Regions from separate parts of the Homo sapiens genome. Here all the other regions are linked to region 3. The links come from fine-mapping of genetic effects on gene expression. A gene starts in region 3. Each other region holds a variant in brackets. All regions are shown on one strand. Distances are from middle to middle. Region 1 overlaps LOC101928977 (a long non-coding RNA gene). Region 2 has its middle 36 kb from the start of NHLH2. Region 3 holds the start of LINC01649 (long intergenic non-protein coding RNA 1649).

Evidence for each region. PIP is the estimated chance that this variant, and not a neighbour inherited with it, causes the effect. A credible set is the group of variants that fine-mapping cannot tell apart.
Region 1: its variant is the best candidate, but not a certain one, in a credible set for the expression of LINC01649 in cerebellar hemisphere (GTEx, PIP 0.50).
Region 2: its variant is the best candidate, but not a certain one, in a credible set for the expression of LINC01649 in cerebellum (GTEx, PIP 0.75).

The regions. Positions count from the first base shown.
Region 1 is chr1:115,961,022-115,969,206 of GRCh38, forward strand. The region is part of intron 1 of LOC101928977 (a long non-coding RNA gene); the gene reads right to left. Among named protein-coding and RNA genes, the nearest start is that of SLC22A15, 11 kb to the right of the region's middle. The variant G/GATGGTTTAATAT (reference allele first, on the strand shown) is at 4,473.
Region 2 is chr1:115,873,179-115,881,363 of GRCh38, forward strand. No RefSeq gene overlaps it. Among named protein-coding and RNA genes, the nearest start is that of NHLH2, 36 kb to the left of the region's middle. RefSeq lists an enhancer at 6,723-7,262. The variant A/T (reference allele first, on the strand shown) is at 3,132.
Region 3 is chr1:115,915,353-115,923,537 of GRCh38, forward strand. It overlaps LINC01649 (long intergenic non-protein coding RNA 1649), which reads left to right and starts at 4,024. Exons shown (of 3, transcript NR_125969.1): 1 at 4,024-4,207; 2 at 7,015-7,093. It overlaps LOC101928977 (a long non-coding RNA gene), which reads right to left. Exons shown (of 5, transcript NR_125970.1): 5 at 7,221-7,260. It also overlaps the pseudogene LOC101928952.

The DNA of each region.
Region 1 (8,185 bases), 46 kb after region 3:
GTTCATTATTATTTATTATTTTTGCTTTGTGGCTCAGGCTGGAGTGCAGTGGTGTGGTCAGGGCTCACTGCAATGTTGACCTCCCTGGCTCTAGAGATCCTCCCACCTCAGCCTCCCAAGTAGCTGGGATTACAGGTGCATGCCACCGTGCCAGCTAATTTTTAAAAATATTTTGTACAGATGAGGTCTCATTATGTTGCCCAGGCTAGTCTTGAATGCCTGGACTCAAATAATCCTTCCATCTTGGCCTCCCAAAGTGTTGAGATTACAGGCATGAGTCATAAGGCCTGGACATCACATTGCTTATGTTTTTATTTCATGATCACAAAATAGAGCAAGGGTGCAATTTCCACAATCTACAACTTCATTCTCTTTCTCCTTGCCATCACCCCACCCATCCCATCTGGAACTGCTGCCAAGAAGGAAAAGTCTTCACTGGAATGCAAGCTCCACAAGCTAGAATTTTTGTCTGGTTTAAACACTGTATTATCTCTACAACAGTGCTCAGTACAAAGCAGGTCCTCAGCAACCATGTGTTGAATGCATTCTAATACTGATGATTTTCAGAATGGTTTAGGATTTGTGACCTCTCCTTTCTGAGCCTGAGTAGATTAAGTGTATCAAATTTGATTCCCTGTAATCTACTTTGGTTTCCTATTTTCTAAAAGCAATGGAGAGGGAGAGAGATCATTATGGCAGACCAGACGGGAGGCAGAACTAGATGATTCAGATGGACAGACAGTGTGCGGAGGCTTGCATTGTGAATTTTAGCTCCAGATTGACTGCAAGAACAAGCCAGCAATCCCAAGAGGACCCACAGACCCTCTGAAGGAATCTGACTGCTCCTGTAGGACCCAGGAGACACCCCAAATACTCAGCCACAGCAAGACCCCCTCAAGGAGAGTCTGAACTCAGACAGGCCTAGCCCTGACCCAACCTGATGGTCCTCCCCTACCCACCCTGGTAGCTGAAGACAAAGGGCATATAATCTTGGGAGATCTAGGGCCCCACCCACCATCGGTTCCTCTCCGTACTACCATAGCTGATGCTCTCTGGAAAGCACCATCTCTTGGCAGGAGGCCAACCAGCACAAAAATAGAGCATTAAACCAGCAAAGCTAAGAACCCTCACGGAGTCCATTGCACTCCCCTGCCACCTCCACTGGAACAGGTGCTGGTATCCACGGCTGAGAGACGCAGAGACAGTTTACATCACAGGACTCTGTGCAGACAACCCCCAGTACCAGCCCGGAGCCAGGTGGACTCGCTGAGTGGCTAGACCCAGAAGAGAGACAACTATCACTGCAGTTTGGCTCACAGGAAGCTACATCCACAGGAAAAAGGGGAGAGTACTACATCAAGGGAACATATTGTGGGACAAAAGAATCTGAACAACAGCCTTCAGCCCTAGACCTTCCCTCTGACAGAGCCTACCCAAATGAGAAGGAACCAGAAAACCACCTCTGGTTACAAGGCTCTTTAACACCCCCCAAAAATCATACTAGTTCACCAGCAATGAATCGAAACCAAGAAGAAATCCTTGATTTACCTGAAAAAGAATTCAGGAGGTTAGTTATTAAGCTAATTAGGGAGGCACCAGGGAAAGACAAAGCCCAATGCAAGGAAATCCGAAAAATGATACAAGAAGTGAAGGGAAAAATATTCAAGGAAAGAAATAGCTTAAAGAAAAAACAATAAGAAATTCAGGAAACATTGGAGACACTTATAGAAATGCAAAATGCTCTGGAAAGTCTCAGCAATAGAATTAACAAGTAGAAGAAGGAAATTCAGAACTCGAAGACAAGGTCTTCGAATTAACCTAACCCAACAAAGAGAAATAAAAAAGACTAAGAAAATATGAACAAAGCTTCCAAGAAGTCTGGGATTATGTTAAATAACCAAACCTAAGAATAATTGGTGTTCCTGAGGAAGAAGAGAATTCTAGAAGCTTGGAAAACATTTTGGGGGAATAATCGAGGAAAACTTCCCTCACCTTGCTAGAGACCTAGACATCCAAATACAAGAAGCACAAAGAACATCTGGGAAATTCGTCACAAACAGCTCATTGCCTAAGCACATTGTCATCAGGTTATCTAAAGTTAAGACAAAGTAAAGAATCTTAAGAGCGGTGAAAGAGAAGCACCAGGTAACTTACAAAGGAAAATCTATCAGATTAACAGCAGATTTCTCAGCAGAAACCCTATAAGATAGAAGGGACTGGGGACCTATCTTCAGCCTCCTCAAACAAAACAATTATCAGCCAAGAATTTTGTATCCAGCGAAACTAAGCATCATATATGAAGGAAAGATACAGTCTTTCTCAGACAAACAATTGGTGAGAGACGTCGATATACCAAGCCACCACTACAAGAACTGCTAAAAGAAGCTCTAAATCTTGAAACAAATCCTGGAAACACATCAAAACAGAAACTCTTTAAAGCATAAATCACACAGGACCTATAAAACCAAAAAACAAGTTAAAAGGCAAAAACATAAAACAAAAAATCCAAGGTGCACAGGCAAAAAAATAGCACAATGAATGCAACAGTACCTCACATCTCAATACTAACATTGAATGTAAATGGCCTAAATGCTCCACGTAAAAGATACAGAACCTCAGAACGGATAAGAACTCACCAGCCAACTACCTGCTGCCTTCAGGAGACTAACCTAACACATAAGGACTCATATTAGCTTAAAGTAAAGAGCAGGGGGAAAGGCATTTCATGCAAATAGACACCAAATGTGAGCAGGGTAGCTATTCTTATATCTGACAAAACAAACTTTAAAGCAACAGCAGTTAAAAGAGACAAAGAGGGACATTATATAACAGTAAAAGGCCTTGTGCAAGAGGAAAATATCACAATCCAAAACATATATGTGCCTATCACTGGAGCTCCCAAATTTATAAAACAATTACTAATAGACCTAAGAAATGAGATAGACAGCAACAAAATAATAGTGGGGGACTTCAATACTCCACTGACAGCACTTGACAGGTCATCAAGAAAGACAGTCAACAAAGAAACAATGGATTTAAACGATACCTTGGAACAAATGGACTTAATAGATATATACAGAACATTTCATCCAACAACCACAGAATACACATTCTATTCAATAACTCATGGAACTTTCTCCAAGATAGACCATATGATAGGCCATAAGAGTCTCAATACATTTAAGAAAATTGAAATTATATCAAACACTCTCTCAGACCACAGTGGAATAAAACTGGAAATCAACTCCAAAAGGAACCTTCGAAACCATACAAATACATGGAAATTAAATAACCTGTTTCTGAATGAGCATTGGGTCAAAAACAAAATCAAGATGGAAATTAAAAAATTATTCAAACTGAACGACAGTAATGACACAACCTATCAAAACCTCTGGGATATAGCAAAGGTGGTGCTAAGAGGGAAGATCATAACACCAAATGCCTGTATCAAAAAGACTGAAAGAGACTAACTGACATTCTAAGGTCACACCTCAAGGAACTAAAGAAACAAGAACAAACCATACCCAAACCCAGCAGAAGAAAACAAAAATAACCAAGATCAGAGCAGAACTAAATGAAACTGAAACACACAAAAAAATACAAAAGGTAAATGAAACAAAAAGCTGGTTCTTTGAAAAGATAAATAAAATTAATAGACCATTAGCAAGATTAACCAAGAAAAGAAGAAAGAAAATCCAAACAACCTCATTAAGAAACGATACAGGAGATATTATAACTGATACCACTGAAATACAAAAGATCATTCAAGGCTACTATGAACACCTTTACGTACATAAACTAAAAAACCTAGAAGAGATGGATAAATTCCTGGAAAAATACAACCCTCCTAGCTTAAATCAGGAAAAATTAGATGCTCTGAACAGACCAATAACAAGCAGTGAGACTGATATGGTAATTAAAAAATTACTGTTCGTGACTACCCTGACCAACATGGTGAAACCCCATCTCTACTAAAAATACAAATTTAGCTGGGTGTGGTGGTGCATGCCTGTAATCCCAGCTACTTGGGAGGCTGAGGCAGGAGAATCGCTTGAACCCAGGAGATGGAGGTTGCAGTGAGCTGAGTTCGTACCATTGCACTCTAGCCTGGGCAACAAGAGCGAAACTCTGTCTCAAAAAAAAAAAAAAAATTTACCAACAAAAAGTGCCTGGGACCAGATGGATTCACAGCAGAATTCTACCAGACATTCAAGGAAGAATCGGTACCAATCCTTTTGACACTATTCCACAAGATAGAGAAAGAAGGAACCCTCCCTAATTCATTCTATGAAGCTAGCGTTACCCTAATACCAAAACCAGAAAGGACAAAACCAAAAAAGAAAACTACAGACCAATATCCTTGATGAACATAGATGCTAAAATCCTTAACAAAATACTAGCTAACCAAATCCAGCAACATATCAAAAAGATAATCCACCACGATTGAGTGGGTTTCATACCAGGGATGCAGT[G/GATGGTTTAATAT]ATGCAAGTCAGTAAATGTGGTACACCACATAAACAGAATTAAAACAAAAATCACACTATCATCTCAATAGATGCAGAAAAAGCATTTGACAAAATCCAGCATCCCTTTATGATTAAAACTCTCGGCAAAACTGGCATATGAGGTACATACCTCAATGTAATAAAAGCCATCTACGACAAGCCCACAGCCAACATAATACCAAATGAGGAAAAGTTGAAAGCATTTTCTCTGAGAACTGGAACAAGGTAACAATGCCCACTCTCACCACTCCTCTACAACATAGTACTGGAAGTCCTAGCCAGAGCAGTCAGACAAGAGAAAGAAATAAGGGGCATCCAAATCAGTAAAGAGGAAGTCAGACTGTCACTGTTTGCTGACCATATGCTCATTTACCTCGAAAACCCTAAAGGTTCCTCCAGAAAGCTCCTAGAACTAGTAAAATAACTCAGCAATGTTTCCGGATACAAGATTAATGTACACAAATCAGTAGCTCTTCTATACAACAGCGACCAAGCAGAGAATCAAATCAAGAACTCAGCCCCTTTTTCAAGGGCTGCCAAAAAAATAAAATACCTAGGAATATACCTAACCAAGGAGTCAAAAAACCTCTACAAGGAAAACTACAAAACACTGCTGAAAGAGATCATAGATGATACAAACAAATGTAAACACATCCCATGCTCATGGATAGGTAGAATCAATATTGTGAAAATGACCACACTGCCAAAAGCAATCTACAAATTCATTGCAATCCCCATCAAAATACCACCATCATTCTTCACAAAATTAGAAAAAACAATTCTAAAATTCATATGGAGCCAAACAAGAGCCCACATACCCAAAGCAAGTCTAAGCAAAAAGAACAAATCTGGAGGCATCACACCACCTGATTACAAACTATACTGTAGGGCCATAGTCAACAAGCCAGCATGGTACTGGTATAAAAATGGTACATAGATCAATGGAACAGGATAGAGAACCCAGAAATAAACCCAAATACTTACAGCAAACTGGTCTTCAAGAAAGCAAACAAAATCATAAAGTGGGGAAAGGACACCCTTTTCAACAAATGGTGCTGGGATAATTGGCTAGCCACATGTAGGGGAATGAAACTGGATCCTCATCTCTCACCTTACATAAAAATCAACTCAAGATGGATTAAGGACTTAAATCTAATGCCTGAAACTATAAAAATTCTAGAAGACAACATTGGAAAAACCATTCTAGACATTCTTAGGCAAGGATTTCATGACCAAGAATCCAAAAGCAAATGCAATAAAAACAAAGATAAATAGTTGAGACTTAATTAAACTAAAGAGCTTTTGCACAGCAAAAGGAACAGTCAGCAGAGTAGACAGACAATCCACAGAGTGGGACAAAATCTTCACAATCTGTACATCTGACAAAGGACTAATATCCAGAATCTACAATGAACTCAAACAAATCAGTAAGAAAACACAATCGCATCAAAAAGTGGGCTAAGGACATGAATAGACAATTCTCAAAATAAGGACAAACAAATGGCCCAACAAACAAGAAAAAATGCTCCCCAGCACTTTGGGAGGCCAAGGTGGGCGGATCATGAGGTCAGGAGATCGAGACCATCCTGGCTAACATGGTGAAACCCCGTCTCTACTAAAAATGCAAAAAAATTAGCTGGGCGTCGTGGTGGGCACCTGTAGTTCCAGCTACTCGGGAGGCTGAGGCAGGAGAATGGCGTGAACCTGGGAGGCGGAGCTTGCAGTGAGCGGAGATCGCGCCACTGCACTCCAGCCTGGGCAACAGAGCAGCAGATCAAGACCCCGTCTCAAAAAAAATAAAAAAAAAATAAAAAATAAATGCTCAATATCACTAATGATCAGGGAAATGCAAATCAAAACCGCAATGTGATACCACCTTACTCCTGCAAGAATGGCCATAATAAAAAAATCAAAAAACAGTAGATGTTGGCGTGGGTGCAGTGATCAGGGAACACTTCTACACTGCTAGTGGGGATGTAAACTAGTACATCCCCACCTACATGTGGAAAACAGTGTGGAGATTCCTTAAAGAACTAAAAGTAGAACTACCATTTGATCCAGCAATCCCACTACTGGGTATCTACCCAGTGGAAACGGAGTCATTATACGACAAAGATACTTGCACAGGCAGGTTTATAGCAGCACAATTCACAATTGCAAAATCGTGGAACCAATGCAAATGCCCATCAATCAATGAGTGAATAAAGAAATTGTGGTGTATATATTTGATGTAATACTACTCAGCCATAAAAAGAAATGAATTAACGGCATTTGTAGTGACCTGGATGAGATTGGAGACTACTATTCTAAGTGAAGCAACTCAGAAATGGAAAACCAAACATCATATGTTTTCACTGACATGTGGGAGCTAAGCTATGAGGATGCAAAGGCATAAGAATGATACAATGGACTTTAGGGACTTGGGGTGAAAGAGTGGGAGGGGGTCGAGGGATAGAAGACTACAAATGGGGTGCAGTGTATACTGCCTGGGTGATGGGTGAACCAAAATCTCACAAATCACCACTGAAGAACTTACTCACGTAACCAAATATCACTTGTACCCCAATACCTTATGGAAAAATAAAAAACAGAAATAAAAATAAATAAAAATGGAAAAAAATAAAAGCAATGCAAATTGCTGGTTTTAATTTAAAAAGCCCAGTTGGCTTTGAGACTCTTGATATACGTCATTGTCATCCTTATGCAATACTCAACCAATAGAAGTGGTTCTGGAAGTTCCAATAAGCATCTATATTTTAATCCTGAGAAACTGTGAGGCATTTGTGCCTGCATAGGCCAAGTTTTTCATCCATTCTACTGAATCACTCTATTTATTGACTCCATGAATACAGCAAATTCATCATGTCACTCAGTATTCCCTAGTTATATAACTCTTCCATGTAAGAAATAGCATCAGCAACAGCAACAAAAACAGTAACATCACTGACATTTTCATTAAATATGAGCACTCAGGAATGAACCTGTTGAATTAAATGAATGCACTATTATCTAAGCTTAGTGCCTCTTGGACAACATGTAAAATTGGACTCTTAGCAAGCAATACACTCTACTATCTAAATTCAAATATAATTAACGGTTAGTTTTCCTCATATTTCATATCTCTCTACCTTAACTTCCTGAATTTTACACCTAACTCTATTTATACTCTTTTGTTTTATTGCTAAGGTTTGAGACATGGAAATGGCCAATTTCTCCATATTAAATGTAGATCTTTTTAAATATGTTTTTCACCCACTTAACAATCTTTTTGAATGACCGTTGTTGGTTTGGAAGACCAGATGATGTCCACCTCACTGCTAACTCCATTTTCTTTTTACTTCTCTTCCCTTTGTCTTTTGCTCCTTCTTCCCAGGCATCTACCCACAAAATCTCCTGACTCCCTTGTTATTTGTTTCTTCCCGTCATATTTGCTATGTTTATATCAACTTAATGTTGACAGAGGTATATGTACTTTAGATATCTTTATTAAGGTATGGTGCTGTGACATTCTAACTATAAAGTGTTATCTCAGCATGAATGAAGGCTTATGAAGAGGGAGAAATGTTCTTCAGATTTTTCTTTAAAAGGCAGTGCATTTAGGCTGGGATAGAACACTGATTTCCAAGGATTTCTAACAATATGTGACATCCAGAAAGTCTATTATCTTACACACCAAATTTCAGTAGCCATCT
Region 2 (8,185 bases), 42 kb before region 3:
GTGGTTGCCACTAAAGCTGCTACATTATCCAGCCTCAGTTTCCCCTAATCATCTCTACACTTTGTAAGTAAGATCTTTAAAAACTGCTTCTCAAATTGCCCTTACGTATACCAGCTGTTTCTTCCATGACTCTAACATACAGTTATCTATATGGAGGATGGTGAGTGCAAGGGAAAAGAAGGAAGTGTTTGGGAGGAAGTTTCTGGTGATTTTCTATAACAAGGTGAAAAGGAAACAAGACAGGAGTTGTGCCAGTTGTTGGCAGGAGCACTGATATCTGTGGCTACAGAAGACTGCACGGCCATGAATGTATTTGGATGATGAAATGAAGCAGAACTTTTAATTCAGCTTGTTAAATACAACCCAAGCAGTGAAGCTTGTCACTGCAGGGCAGGAGTTCAAAAGAAACTGATGAATCCTAGGGTTTTGGAATAGCACCGGCTGTCAGAAAGGTGCACACCTATCTTAGTATCCATTTGACTGAGGATGGACTCAGCTAATGAATGAGGAGGGAGAAGGGAGGCGTGAAAGTATGGGACTGTCTATACTAGCGCTTCTCAACTAGGGGCAGTTGTACCCCTCATGAAACATGTGGCAATGTCTGGAGATGTTTTTGGTTATCATTGTTACCAGAAAGGGGTCCTGATCCAGACCCCAAGAGAGGGTTATTGGACCTTGCACAAGAAAGAATTCAGGGCGAGTCCACAGAGTGAAGTGAAAGCAAGGTTTATTAAGAAAGTAAAGGAATAAAAGAATGGCAGACTGGGCGCTGTGACTCACGCCTGTAATCCCAGCACTTTGGGAGGCCGAGGCGGGTGGATCACCTGAGGTCAGGAGTTCGAGACCAGCCTGGCCAACATGGTGAAACCCTGTCTCTACTAAAAATATGAAAATTAGCTGGCCGCAGTGGCGCACGCCTGTAATCCCAGCTACTTGGGAGGCCGAGGCAGGAGAATCGCTTTAACCCAGGAAACAGAGGTTGCGGTGAGCCAAGATCACACCACTGCACTCCAGCCTGGGCAACAGAGCAAGACTCCATTTCAAAAAAAAAAAAAATGGCTACTCTATAGGCAGAGCAGCAGCATGGGCTGCTCAACTGAGTATACTTACAGTTTCTTCTTTATTGTATGCTAAGCAAGGGGTGGATTATTCATGAGTTTTTCAGGAAAGTGGTGGGCAATTCCCAGAACTGGGGGTTCCTCCCCTTTTTAGACCATATAGGGTAACTCTGGATGTTGCCATGATGTTTGTAAACTGTCATGGTGCTGATGAAAGTGTCTTTTAACATGCTAATGTATTAGAATTAGCATATAATGAGCAATGAGAATGACCAGCAGTCACTTTCTTTGGGATCTTGGTTTTGGTGAGTTTTTGCCAGCTTCTTTCTTGCTGTTTTTATCAGCAAGGTCCTTATGACCTGTATTTTGTGCCAACCTCCTATCTCATGCTGTGACTAAGAATGCCTAACCTACTGGGAATGCACCCCAGCAGGTCTCAGCCTTATTTCACCCAGCCCCTATTCAAGATGGAGTCGCTCTGGCTCAAGCACCTCTGACATCATGACTGGTTGGAGATGAAGATGCTTCTGGCATCTAGTGGGTTGACGCTAGGAAGGCTGATAAACGTCCTAAAATGCAGAAGACAGCCCCAAAGAAACTTTCAGCCCCAAATGTCAATAGTGTGGAAGTTGAGAAGCCCTGATCTACGGCCTGGCCAGCCAAGTGGAAGCTGTGGACCATGTGTCTATTATAATGGTTAAGAATGCAGTCTCCGGAATTAGCTAGACCTGAGTTTGAATTCCAGCTAGTGATGTTGGGCAAGTAATCTAACCTCTCTAGGCTTCAGTTTCGTGTTCTTTTCAGCTTTCAAGCAAGATCTATTGAACACCCCCTTATGCCACGTCACACTATGTGGTCAGCAAGTACAAATGATCACAGTAACATTTAAGTTAGCTAGAACTCCCAGGAAACAGGACATTCTGAGTCATGGACATTTCCGGTTGAAAACTAGTGTTCATTCCTGTCTCATAATATATGTAGAAACAATTTTCTTGCTCCCATTCTGTTATTGTTACATATTATGGCTTTTATAAAATTTACTGGATCGTGGGAAACAATTTTCATGTTCCCAGTAGCTGAGGCAGCCACTATATACCATTCAACAGCCAGAGCCTTTTTGTGAGAGTGATTTCTTTGTGTTTTTTAATTTATTATTTTAAAATTAATATTATTTTAATAGAAAGATAATTGTATATGTTTATGGGGTATAATGTGATGTTTTGATATACAATGTGGGATGATTAAATCAATCTAATTAACATATCTATTACCTGACATTATTTTTCATGGTGAGACATTTGAAATTTATTCTCTTAGCAAGTTTGAAATAAACAATATATTGTTAGCTGTAGTCACCCTGCTCTGCAATAGATCTCACAGACTTATGGTCTCTGACGTTAACCAGTATCCCCCTATTTCCTCCCAGCTTCAGTTTCTTATCTTTAAAATGGGGAAAATAACGAGACCCACCTCACAGAGCTGTGGAGCTTATATACATATAAATTGTTTAGCACAGTGCTTGGCACATAGTTAAGTTCTCAAGAAATGGTTACTCCTATTATGGTAATTGTTACCTTCCCAGTACAGATTATAATTCCATTAAAACTAATTTATGAGGCAAGAGGAAAGTTTCCGTGGAGCTGATAGGTTTTGTAATTAGGTAGTTAGATGTGTGTGTTCACTTCACAGAAATTCACTGAGCTTGCAGGATGCAGTGGCTCGTGCCTGTAACTCCAGCACTCTGGGAGGTCAAGATGGGTGAATCGCTTGAGGCCAGGAGTTGGAGATCAGCCTGGGCAACATGGTGAAACCCATCTCTACAAAAAATATACAAAAATTTGACAGGCAAGGTGGAGCGCACCTGTAGTCTCAGCTACTCAGGAGGTTGAGGTGGGAGGATCACTTGAGCTCGGGAGGTTGAAGCTGAAGTGAGTCAAGATGGCATCACTGCACTCCAGCCTGGATGACAGTGAGACCTTGTTGCAAAAATAAATAAATAACTAAGTAAATAGATTGAGCTCTAGCTCTACACTTATGATTTCGGACCTTTTCTGTACATATATTATAACTTTT[A/T]AAAAGCTTACTTAAAATGATTAATAGGAGTCTCATTCTGCCTGCCTTCAAAAAGCCCCATGATATTTAATAAATTCTTGACTTTCCTTGCCAGTGATTCAATCTCTCAGAAGTTGAAAGATGCAATGAAGGACAGTTACTCTCCACTGACCAGTTTGCTCTCCACTGACCAAAACTGAGGAACTGGGAAGAAAGATGAGAAATTGACAGCAATGTCATATACAAGGGACCATCATATTATAGTATAGGAAGAAAATGTTTGTTGAAGTGCTAACATCTAATTTAGGTTTTAAGAAAATAGAATTCAAAAAAGTTTGGAGAAAAAATAGCTGTGACCATGTAGTCTGATTTCAAAAAGACCGAGTGACTTAAGAGGAATGGCAGGTTCTAAACAGAAATTCTAACTCTTTAGTCATAAATTATCGTGATAAGAGAGAAAAATGGGAAACAGTGTGTCCATAGAGGGAGCTCCCAGATGATCTCAGGTATTTAAAGGATCTGCGTAGGTGAATGAAGAACACTGAGCTGAGGGCTAACACAGAATGACACAAGTAGGTATTATTCCTGCATGGTAAAGGTCAGAACTAGGCAAGGTTTTGTGAAGCATGCCAACGACAATTGAAAAAGCTTTTTAGCTATGCTTGGTGCTGGAAAGACAAGGAAGCATATGGCCATTTGTCAATTTAGTGTTAACAGCAGCACAAAGAAGGCAGAACAATTCATTTCATAATTTTTTTTAATTTTCTCTATCAAGGAAAATGATTTTCTAATGATAATGGATACCATCATATTGGCTAGGAAAGAATTTGAGCACTAACTAGTTGAATAAATACTAAGAGCCCCCTCCTTGTTTTTCATGGGCTCAAATCTGCTGCTGGATGAAAAATGTGCAGATGTGATTGGGAAACCCTTACCTCAACCTTGGGTGAAAGGGCACAAGAACCTGCCTGAAAGCTGAGAGAAGGACCAGTGTGCTTATTTTTAACGTGGGGAAATACATATTTCAGAATCTGCCACCCTGTGAGCTTGATGCTGATACCCGGGAAAATTCTGGGTTGATTTAATTAAATTAGGTAGTTTATGAATACTTGATGGAATAAAGGAGTGAAAAGCCCTGCACTCAGCCTGATTTTCCAGGGAAAAATGTTATACTAATAATATACTGAGCACCACCTGCCAGCGTGTCTCCAAGCACTCCATTTCTTCAGGCCTCAAAGAATCCTGTGAGGCAGGTCCTGAGACAGTCAAATCCTAGGCAGATAAAAAGGAGTCCCAGAGAATCTCTGACCGGCTTCAAAAGTGTTTACATCAGATGCTTTTGTGCAGATGAGGGCTAGATGCCCAGGGCTTGTCTGTGCATGCACACAGCTGACTAGACCCTGGCGTGTGCACTGGGGGAAGTGGGTGGAGCCACAGGAAATTCACACATTATGCATGGGAAGAGCCTGCTCTCTTCAGCTCCTGCGGTGACCTGGGAATCAATCAGTGAGGTAGAGGGCCTGTTAGCAGGGGTCCATCACACATTGCTGAGATCTTTTTTTTCTTTTCTTTTTTTTTTTGAGATGGAGTTTCGTTCTTGTCACCCGGGCTGGAGTGCAGTGGCGTGATCTCAGCTCACTGCAACCTCCGCCTCCTGGGTTCAAGCGATTCTCCTGCCTCAGCCTCCCAAGTAGCTGGGATTACAGGCGCCTGCCACCATGCCCGGCTAATTTTTTGTATTTTTAGTAGAGACGGGGTTTCGCCATGTTGGGCAGGCTAGTCTCGAATTCCTTACCTCAAGTGATCCGCCCGTCTAGGCCTCCCAAAGTGTTGGGGTTACAGTCGTGAGCCACTGCGCCTGGCCTCTTTTTCATTTTTCACCTTTCACCCAATACAATCCTGCTCTACACACCCTTTGATGTGTCCACGTGCCTAAGTTTTCCTGGTTGTGTGACAAGAAGCCAGGTTTTAGCTGAACTAAGGAGTAAAATTCAGCAACAGTACTACCATTATCTCTATTTCCAGATGAGAAAACAGAGGCACAGGGGAGTCAATGAACTTGCCAGAGGTCACACAGCCAGTGTAACAGAGCCAGAGCTCAACAGGCAGGCTGGCTCTGGAGCTTTTGCTCTTCCCCTTGACTCTGAGAGGCTTTCAGCAAAGCAATGGATAATGAGCATCAACATGCCTTTCATGACAACAGGAGGAAATGCAGTCTGCACAGGCTGCAGTGAGGCACAGTAGCACTCGTTTAAGCAGTCGCAGGAAGAGAAGTTCAAGTGAAGCCTCCCTGCCATTTTGGAAGTCCTGGAACAATACCTTAGGCTGCAGCATTAAATACTGGTGATATGTGAGCACTTTTGACCTATAAAAATGGTAGTTTTACGTGTTCCAGCCTAATACTTTATCCTCTCTTGCCTAATACTTTTTCATATTCTTTTACCTGGACGTGTGTAGTGCTTGTTGGACCATTTTCAGATGTCACATAGCTGGGATTGATACCTAGTGAGATAATTGCAATACAGAAAGGTCATTACAGTTTGGAGAACGGGGATGAAACTATCACAAAATGAATTTTAACAGAAATAAATGTGAAGCTCTGAATTCAGTTTTAAACATTTAGTCTCCACAAGGATAGGGTGAGAGAGACCTGATTAACCAAAGTTCCTGTGAAAGCACAGGATTTTTGGTCTCCACCAGCTTTCTTGAGTCCCCAGGTGCTGAGGTAATTGGGGCGGTCAAGGAATACGGGGCTGGATAAAACAACCTCACGTTGATCATTTAACTCTGTCTAGGGGACCAAAGTGCCAGGGTTGGGGGCAGTCCTCTGACATGCACAAGGTGTTAAAAGAAGGGTGTTTATTGTACACCGAGCAGTGGAGAATTTGGAATTTTTAGCCTGAAGAGGCTTGGGGAAAACTGATAGCAGCCTTCAAGTATTTAAAGGGATACTATTCATAAATCAAGAAACATTTACTGAGTACCTGCCACATGAAAGGAGGAGCACTGTGTGCTGTGAGAGACTGAAAAATGAGAAAGAATGCTATCTGACCTCAAGAAGTTTATTAATAGAGAGGGGTTGTCTGACCCAGAGACAACTAATACAGGGGGTAAATCAACAGTTGCTATAATAGAGACACAAATAAATCATAATCATTAAGTGTTCTTTCCTTTCTTAACAGATATTTGTAGTACAAAGAACTTCAAATATCTGAAAGAAGTAGAGAGAGGTATAAGAGGTGTTAGGAGACTTAAGGAGAAACAGGCTTCTCTGACCTACAGGGAAATTGTTGCCTGTTTAGTCCAGTCTATTTTCCATTAAACATTCTGTCTTGCTCAGCTTCACGAATAAAAACAGGGAAATAAAGCAACTTTCTTTTAATTGTATTTACTACAAGACTTATTTGATGGTAATTTCCTTCAGTACAATTATTTATGGATTTACTTATATTCTGCTTTTCAGCTTCTTTTACTTTTATTTTTTGAGATGGGGTCCCGTTATGTTGCCCAGGCTGGTCTCGAACTCCTGGGCTCAGCAATCCTCCCACCTAGGCCTCCCAAAGTGCTGGGATTACAGGCATGAGCCACTGCGCCTGACCTCAGCCTCTTTTTTTCGGCCTGCATACACATGCACTTACATGCACACACACACACATATGCACACACACACACAGACACACACACACACACACAAGCACAGTGATTCCAACAAGGAGATCTAGTTTTTACTTAAACAAAGGAAGGAGTCACCTCTATAGTGTGATTTGAGGGTTGAGGTACCAAGGAAAGCAGCTACCCCTATCCCAATCTTATAAAACCACTTCTTTTGTCATAGGATCCAACGCTACCATTCATGAATCATCCCTTGAGTGCCCCCTCCTGGCTCCCCAGAGAGTCCTGGGGGGAGTTCCTCTTTGAAGTCTTCACAACCAATTTAAGTTGTGAGCTGCCAGTCTTCTTTGTGACAGCCAAGTGTACCATGAGAGTACCACAGGAGTGTATGGTGGGGGTTGTATTTCAGGAAATAGAAAGGATGAAATATTAGGATCAACTAAGCAGATTTCACCAACCTTACATTTTTTTCCCTGCAGTTAACTCATCATTATCTTCATTCATGTTCTCAAGACAATCCTTAATAAAGTATTAAACAATCATTTGGGGCCGGGCACAGTGGCTCACGCCTGTAATCTCAGCACTTTGGGAGGCCGAGGCGGGCGGATCATGAGGTCAGAATTTCGAGACCAGCCTGGCCAGCATGGTGAAACCCCGCCTCTACCAAAAATACAAAAAATTAGCCAGGCATGGTGGCACACACCTGTAGTCCCAGCTACTCGGGAGGCTGAGGGAGGAGAATTGCCTGAACCCGGCAAGCAGAGGTTGCCGTGAGCTGAGATCATGCCACTGCACTCCAGCCTGGGCAACAGAGCAAGACTCCATCTCAAAAACAAACAAACAAACAACAAAAAAAAAAAACAGAACCAAAAAAAATCATTTGGATTTGAGCTATATTCCATGTTAGTGTTTCCCTAGTATTTACTAGTGGTTCTAAAAGAAAGTGTGCATTCCTTGGGCTCAACAGATGGTAGAAAGAGATGGCTGGAAAGTTGATGAGAAACCAAAAACGAGCATTTTGCATGGGAAAATCCAAAATCTCCACAAGGACCTAGTCTGATTGCTTATGATAAAGTTCTAGCACTGGTCCACCAATGAATCACAATGAAAATTTCCAGTAATTTTGAATTTGCCAGGCTATTGCCTACTGATTTTATAACATCTGTTAACATGTTCAGGTACTGGGGCATGATGAGTGTCTATTTATTCATAAGACTGTTGTGGGGGTGCCTACATGCTTTAGTCAAATCATGTAATAGTTCTATGCCTCACAACTGAAAACCAAATAGTTCCTGTTTTTCTTTTGCATACAGTCTCAAGTGTTGATGGAGTAGCACTGTGATGTTCATTAAGGTTAGAAGACGCTACTCATGAAAACTCTTGTTTGCTAGGCAGGTGGGATTATGGGTGGGTTTTATTATTCTTTCAAAAAAATTTTTTTAATCTTGACATAAAATTCCTTT
Region 3 (8,185 bases):
CCGAGACCCTAGTAGAGGAAATGCAAGGTTTGAAATGGATTGGAACCAGAAGCTGGTCTGTGGAAAATTCTTTCCAATCAATTGTAGCAGAGGATTTAGTTTCTATTGACACCTAATTGAAAGGAAGTTCTCTCCTATTGGGAATGCACATGCAGATGCAGTGTACATGATTGTGTTTTTGTACTATACAATAAAACTATTTTTCATAGATTTACATATAAAGTCAATAGAAATAATTCTGATATCTAGCAGTAAACTGTAACAAAAAACAGTTGGGTGTGGTGGCTCATGCCTGTAATTCTTACACTTTGGGAGGCCGAGGCCAGGAGTTTGAGACCAGCCTGCACAACATAGTGAGACCCTATCTCTACCAAAAATTTCAAAATTAGCCTGGCACGGTGGTGTGTGCCTGTAGTCTCAGCTACTCAGGAGGCTGAGACAGGAGGATCACTTGAACCTGTGAATTTGAAGATGGAGTGAGCTATGATTTTGCCACTGCTCTCCAGCCTGGGCAACAGAATGAGACCCTGTCTCTAAAAAATATTTTTTTAAAAAAGTATCATTTCCAGCCGGGCACAGTGGTTCACGCCTCTAATCCCAGCACTTTGGGAGGCTGAGGGGGATGGATCACGAGGCCAGGAGTTTGAGACCAGCCTGACCAACATGGTGAAACCTCATCTCTACTAAAAATACAAAAGTTAGCTGAGCGTGGTGCCGTGCCTGTAATTCCAGCTACTCAGGAGGATCGCTTGAACTTGGGAGGCAGAGGTTGCAGTGAGCCGAGATTGCGCCATTGCACTCCAGCCTGGGCGACAGAGTGAGACTCCGTCTCAAAAAAAAAAATTCAAAATTAGTAAATCATTAAGAGGAAGAGATAAATTGCCAATAGAAATAATAAATAGGCTTTTATATTATTTAATGATCTAATCAATAAAAAAGAATGAGTTATACGAATATATTTGTAAAATATTTAAATTTATAATTAGACAGGAATGTTTATATTGACAAAGATAATATAAACCATAATACACCATTAGAAGGAGGACATAGATCACAAATTAGTTAATAGTGAATGCCATCAATTCATAGCATATTTAAGATTAGTCATTGAGAGACTGAAATGCCACCTCATCGCAGGAGGCGCCTGGCAGGGATGGAGCTGGTGCGGGCCTGGAAGTAGATGTCCTGGTTCTACTACCAACACCTGCTGGTCACAATGCTCTACATGCTGGAGCCCGAGGAGCGGAAGGTGCTCAATTCCACGCTGGTTTCCATTGATACGCAGGATACATCTTCATGACCCAGCACATCATGGCGATATTGCACTACTTTGAAATTGTACAATAACCAAGATTAGAGGTTCCTTGGGGAAGACCCACCCTACGAAGTTGGAATGACACCATCAGATGTGATAAGAAACTCTTCTAAATGTCAACCTAACCAACCTAAAATTCATGAGTAGAACAGGAAAATCACCGACTCATGTGTTGTGTTCTATATTTTTCATTTTAAAAGAAGCTCTTGCATAGTAGCTTTTGTCTATTTTAACATTGCAGCCATTTGTACTTTGATATCACTATTTTCTTTTCTTTTTTTTTTTTTTTTTTTTTTTTTTTTTTTTGAGATGGAGTTTCACTCTTGTTACGCAGGCTGGAGTGCAATGGTGCAATCTCGGCTCACTGCAACCTCTGCCTCCCAGGTTCAAGCAATTCTCCTGCCTCAGCCTCCCTAGTAGCTGGGATTACAGGCATGTGCCACCACGCCCAACTAATTTTGTATTTTTAGTAAAGATGGGGTTTCTCCATGTTGGTCAGGCTGGTATCAAACTCCCGAACTCAGGTGATCTGCCGGCCTCAGCCTCCCGAAGTGCTGGGATTACAGGCGTGAGCCACGGTGCCCAGGTGACATCACTATTTTCTTAACCTTTGTGACTGTTTCAATATTACCCCCATGAAAGCTTTTTTTTATGTACCTTTGAGTACATTATAATTGTCTTATATTTTAAAGTCATTAGTTGGGCTTTACTGTTCTTGCTATTGTATGACATATACATCTGCCTGGATATATTTTTACTCTTGACCAAAGTTTTATAAGAACAATATAAGATTTAGGGTAGGGGCATGGGGAGGAAGGATATTTTATTAAGAACTACTTAAAAGAACTACTTGCTGGGCACGGTGGCTCACACCTGTAATCCCAGCACTTTGGAAGGCTGAGGCAGGCGGATCACAAGGTTAGGAGATCGAGGCCATCCTGGCTAACACAGTGAAACCCTGTCTCTCCTAAAAATACAAAAAAATTAACTGGGTGTGGTGGCGGGCGCCCGTAGTCCCAGCTACTTGGGAGGCTGAGGCGGGAGAATGGGTGTGAACCCAGGAGGCGGAGCTTGCAGTGAGCCGAGATCATGTCACTGCACTCCAGCCTGGGTGACAGGGCGAGACTGTCTCAAAAAAAAAAAAAAAAAAAAAAAAAGAACTACATATATCAAAATATATTTTATTAAGAGCTACTTATCTGTAAGCTTGAACTCACAAGTATAGTTTTAGCTATCTAGACTCTAACAGCTTTTGCTTTAAAACTATTAAAGCATTTGTGGTTTTTTTGTTTTGTTTTTGTTTTTTTCTTTTTTGAGACCAGAGTCTTGCTCTGTTGCCCAGGCTGGATCTCGGCTGCAACCTCCACCTCCCGGGTTCAAGTGATTCTCCTGCCTCAACCTCCCAAGTAGCTGGGATTACAGGCACCCGCAACCACACTTGGCTAATTTTTGTATTTTTAGTAGAGACGGGGTTTCACCATGTTGGTCAGGCTGGTCTCGAACTCCTGACCTCGTGATCTGCCCGCCTCAGCCTCCCAAAGTGCTGGGATTACAGGCATGAGCCACCGCACCTCGCCGGGTAATGATTCTTGAGACAAGAGGTGGTTAAGTAGCATTATTATGTAATGTTTATATACCATGGAGTTTTTACAAGAAGATAAATCTATTTCCTCTGAGGGCCACTATTAACAATGTACTTCCTTAAATTTAGTTAAGTGATCGTAATACGTGCTGCATTTGCACATTGCATTAAGTTATGATGAGCTGAATTGTTACAAATTATAGCAAAAAGAAGTGTAAACTTGGCTAAAATCCTTCCATTCTTTGTATTTTTTTAAAGATTTTTATTCCTTAAATGCAAAATGACTACCTAATTTTTTTATGTAAATTCATTAAATTCAAAGAGAAAAAAAGATTAGTCATTGAACAGTAACAACAACGAAAACAAATTAGAGATACTCTGAAATCTTAGAGTTCACATATGACAAAAATTTGATGGAAATTTCCTAAAACTGTGATCCCAAGCATTTATGTGATAGTACAAATAATGAGTTATGAAGCTCACAGAAACTTTTCCAAATTCTTAATGAAAAACAAATTTGATCAACCATGCTACTGGAAAGACTAATCTATCTTTATATGTACCCTCTTGATAGAAAATACTACAAAAATCTTTGTTATATGAAGTCGTGACCCAAGAATATATAGAGCCAAAAAATGAAGGCATAATTATATAGGGGTGTCAGGGCAATTAAGTACCATGTATATATATATATTTTTAATTTTGTGATTCTTGTGGCAGTTAAATATTTTTAAAATGTGTAATTGATAGCAATTTCTTTTCTCACTTTAAATCAACACTCAAACCTAATTTTGTATAAATATTCTTGTCATCTTTTTCTTTTAAAAAGCCTCTAAAATTATGTAAGCTTCAGACCCCAAAAGGAGTAACTTATCAAGAGGAAAAGATCCTAGATTCACTTCTGCTTCTACTTATTCTACTTCTGGATTTATTAAACCATTACTCAGATTTTAAAACACACCACACACAAAGAAAAGTTTCTAAAATAAATGAGCTAACATGGATTTTTTTCATATTCTCCATCTTCTTGATAGCCCAGAGATCCTGATACTCTTTGGACTTTGGTAGTGGAATGGTAGATGTGTGTTGAGAATGGAAGGGAGTTAAGGATGGGGTTCTAGAATTCAGATGCCCTCTTAGGGTTTGAAATGTGGGGGAAAAAAAAAGAGAATCACTGCTTATCTTAGTCTGTTCGGGTAGCTGTAACAAAATACCATACCTGAGTGACTTACAAGTAATAGAAATGTTATTTCTCACATTTCTGGAGTCTGGGAAGCCCAAGATCAAGGTGCTAGCAGATTTGGTGTCTGGTAAGGGCTAACTTCCTTGTTCAAAAATGGTGCCTTCTTGCTGTGTCCTCACATAGTGGAAGAGGTGAGGGAAATTTGGGGGGCAGCTCTCATAAGGACACTGATCATTCATGATGGCCTGCCTTCACGAGACTCAGTCACCTCCCAAGGGCCCCCAGTTCCTAACAGCATCACCTATGGCGGTGAGGATTTCAACATATACATTTTAGGAGGATACAAACATTCAGATGATAGGCCAGAGCACTGACCTAGGCAATGGCATCTACAGAAAAGAGAAAAATAATTTACTTTTGACTTGAGGTGTCTTGGGTTTAAATCCCAGTCCCACCACTTAATCATTTGTGACCCTGAGCCCCGTGAGCTTTGATTTCTGCACTTGTAAAAATAGGCAGAATATTAAATACCTTTAGAGTTTTTCATGAAAACTAAATGCTACCTCTGAAGTTAAATGAAATTGTAAGAATGAAATAAATAGGGCTGTTTTAAAGAGTAAATGTGCTCAGTAATTGGTGTTCTGTAAATGTTAACTTCGTTCTGAAATATATAGAGCAGGATGTCAACTTATGGAAAGAATGTAAATATTTTTTGGTTATAAATACCAATGAATTTTTCTTACAATGCCAATGGATCTATACATACTATATGGATTATATTTAAGCTTTTTGCCTTATCTTAAAGCTAATAGCAAATAGGGCAATGATGTATATGGGCAATTTACAAAAGAAGAAACAAGAATATCTGGTAACATAGCAAGAATTTTTTAACATTTTCTTGGTCATCAAACACAATATAAACAATGAGATACCATTTTGTTTCTCACACTGGCAAAGATTAAGAAGAATGAAAATGCCCACTAGCTGGTGGTAAGGCGGGAAGGGGAAGGGTACACTCATGACATTGGATAGTTGGAGTTCAAATTGGTACAGCTGTTTTGGAGATCAATTTAAAAGTAGGCCCCCTCTCCAAAAGCAAAATAAAACTTTAAAAATGTTTACTCTGCATTTAAAGCTGAAAGTATGCCTTACTCTATGATTTAGTTATGCCTCTCCTAGTTTATATTTTTTGAAGTATAAATATGTCATCCAAAAGACATGTATAAGAATATACATAACAGCTTTATTCAGAATAGCCTAAATGTCTATCAGAAAAAAATAAATCAATAAATTGTAGTTTTTTTTTTAAAGGATACTATGAAGCAATAAAAAGAATGAATTACTGCTATACTCCACAGCATGGATGAATCTCACAGACATTATGTTGAGTGAAGGAAGCCAGAAACCAAAGAATACACACTCTATGATTCCATTTATATGAAGTTCAAGAACAGGGGATAGCTATTGACTGGGAAGAGGCATGAAAAGCATTCTGGAAAATGTTTAATCCATTGATCTGGGTGGTGGTTGTACCCATTGTCTATACACTTGTAGAATTCAAATCGCAGTACACTTGAGATTTATTCACTTTGTTGTATATATGCTATACCTCAATTTAGAAGTTTTGAGAAAACATACACTTTGACTTAGCAAGTATGTTTTCATTCTAAAGAAAAAAGTCAGAGGAGTACAAAAAAGGTTTACATACAAGAATGATCACCATAGCATTATTTATAGTAGCAAAAATCTGGAAATACAATCCAATAATAAGGAAGTAGTTAAATAAAATTATGATACATCAGATAGTAGAATGCTATAATCATTAAATCAGATAAAATAGAAGAGTCAAAAATATGGAAAGTTTTTCATAATATAATGTTCCAAAAAAAAGTAGGTTAACCAAACAGTATTTAAGATTTAATACTATATTTGCTTAAAATATACATGTCTGTCTCCCTCTCTCTCTCTCTATATATATATATGTATATTACATAATCCACATGCTTATCACACGTATCTCTGACTAATGGGATTGTAGATAATTTTCCCTTTCTTTCTCTTGTTTTAAGCAGTTTTCTATATTGGACATGTCCTGTTTTGTAATCTGCAAAAATCTGAAATAAAATGTAAAAGGGAAAAATGCTAGGTGTGGTAGTGCATGCCTATAGTCCCAGCTACTAGGGAGGCTGAGGCAGAGGCTCACTTGAGCCCAGGAGTTTGAGACCAGCCTGACTGATGCAGCAAGACACCATCTCAAAAAATAAAAAATGAAAATAAATAAATAAAAAGGAGGAGAAGGCCAGGCGCGGTGGCTCATGCCTGTAATCTCAGCACTTTGGGAGGCCAAGGTGGGTGGATCATCTGAGGTTGGGAGTTCGAGACCAGCCTGGGCAACATGGTGAAACCCTGTCTCTACTAAAAATACAAAAATTAGCCAGATGTGGTGGTGCACACCTGTAATCTCAACTACTCCAGAGGCTGAGGCAGAAGAATCACCTGAACCCAGGAGGCGAAGGTTGCAGTAAGCTGAGTTTGCACTACTGCACTCCAGGCTGGGTGACAGAGTGAAAGTCCATCTCAAAAAAAAAGGTAGGGGAGGGGATTGAAAAAGAAAGAACAAGAGTGAGCAAATCAACTCTCTATATAAGTAAGCTGTTCTGAACATTTACATATTGCATTCTAGGTATGCCCTTGATGAAGGTAGTTAACCTCTCTAAGCCTCAGGTCCTCTCTGTAAAATGGGAATAATTATTGCACCTAACTTATGGTATTGTTATCTGGATTAAATTAAATATTCTGTATGTAGTGCTTAGCAGTGTCTGACATATCATAAACACTTCATCAATATTAGCCATTACATTACTCTGGGACACTGGCTAAGACCCCTAGGTTACCAGAATTGACTTAACTGCTCTTGTCTTCTTTTCACCTTAGGTATCTACTGACCTGGTTATCGCTTCTTCCTTTAAGGAGTATTAGAACACTGCTGGGGATGGGCTGACAAACATACCAGGTATTGATGCATACAGTCCCCTGAAAGGTCTCATCTGATTAGGGACATTTATTCTGAGAACCAGGTCTCAGAATTCTCTTTTGGATGCATCAAAGTCCAACCGATTCTGAGAGCCAACTTGGTGCGTATCCCTCAGAGAAGCCTTGGGGCCCGGGTTCCACACCATTCTGTATAAAAGTGGAAAGTTAGGAGACAGCTGATTCGCTTTCTCTGTAGAATTATCTTCCCACAACTCACTGTAGAGGTCTATCACACAATGGGTTTTAGTTTCTTTTTTTCCATTGCTTTCCTTGTTTTCTATTTTCATTCTTTTCTAAAATTTTCATTTCCAGAGCTGCTTCTGGGCTCTCTTCTCCCTGCGCCAACCCACCCCCACCTCCTCCCCTTTCTCCCTCCTTCCTTTTCTTTCTCGCTCTTCCTCTTCGTCTCTCTTGAGACAGGTCTAGTGGCCTGGTTGCCATCTGCTGCCTTTTTTTTTATAAGGTTGAGATCAGATGGCATCTAATCGATCGTCATGGTCTCCATGGTTACCAGGGTGACAGAGTACTTGGGAGAGACACATTCTCGAGCCTGGGGCTGTCAGACCATTCCTGAGAGGGGAAAGGAAATAAAACCCCTTCCATCATATTTACACCTTTACATCTTTCTCAAATGCAGCAAAACACAGACCCTGTTTATGTTTTACATAGTGACCTAGTGGCTTGAGGCCAGGGAATGCAGAGTGGCTTTTTTCTATTTAAAAAAATGCACAAGGACAGAAGTAAAGGGTTTTTTGTTTTTTTGTTTTTTAGCCTCAGAACCATCCCTTCCCCTCCCTGCTCCATACAGACCATCCCTTTTATCATTTTTTTTTCTTTTCCCTTTAAATGTTTGGGAATTAATTCAGTAATTCTACTGAGTTGTTATTCTTCCAATAAATCATGGTAGTTCTAAAAGTGACAATTGACAGCTATTTGCTTTAGGGAAAGAAATAACCTTCATAAAATTACCAACACTTTCACTTTTGATTAGAATCAGTGTTAATGTTAATGTTAGTTGTTCTTTGGCCAAGCATTTGTAATATAGGAAGCCATTTTTCCCACAAAGAGCAGC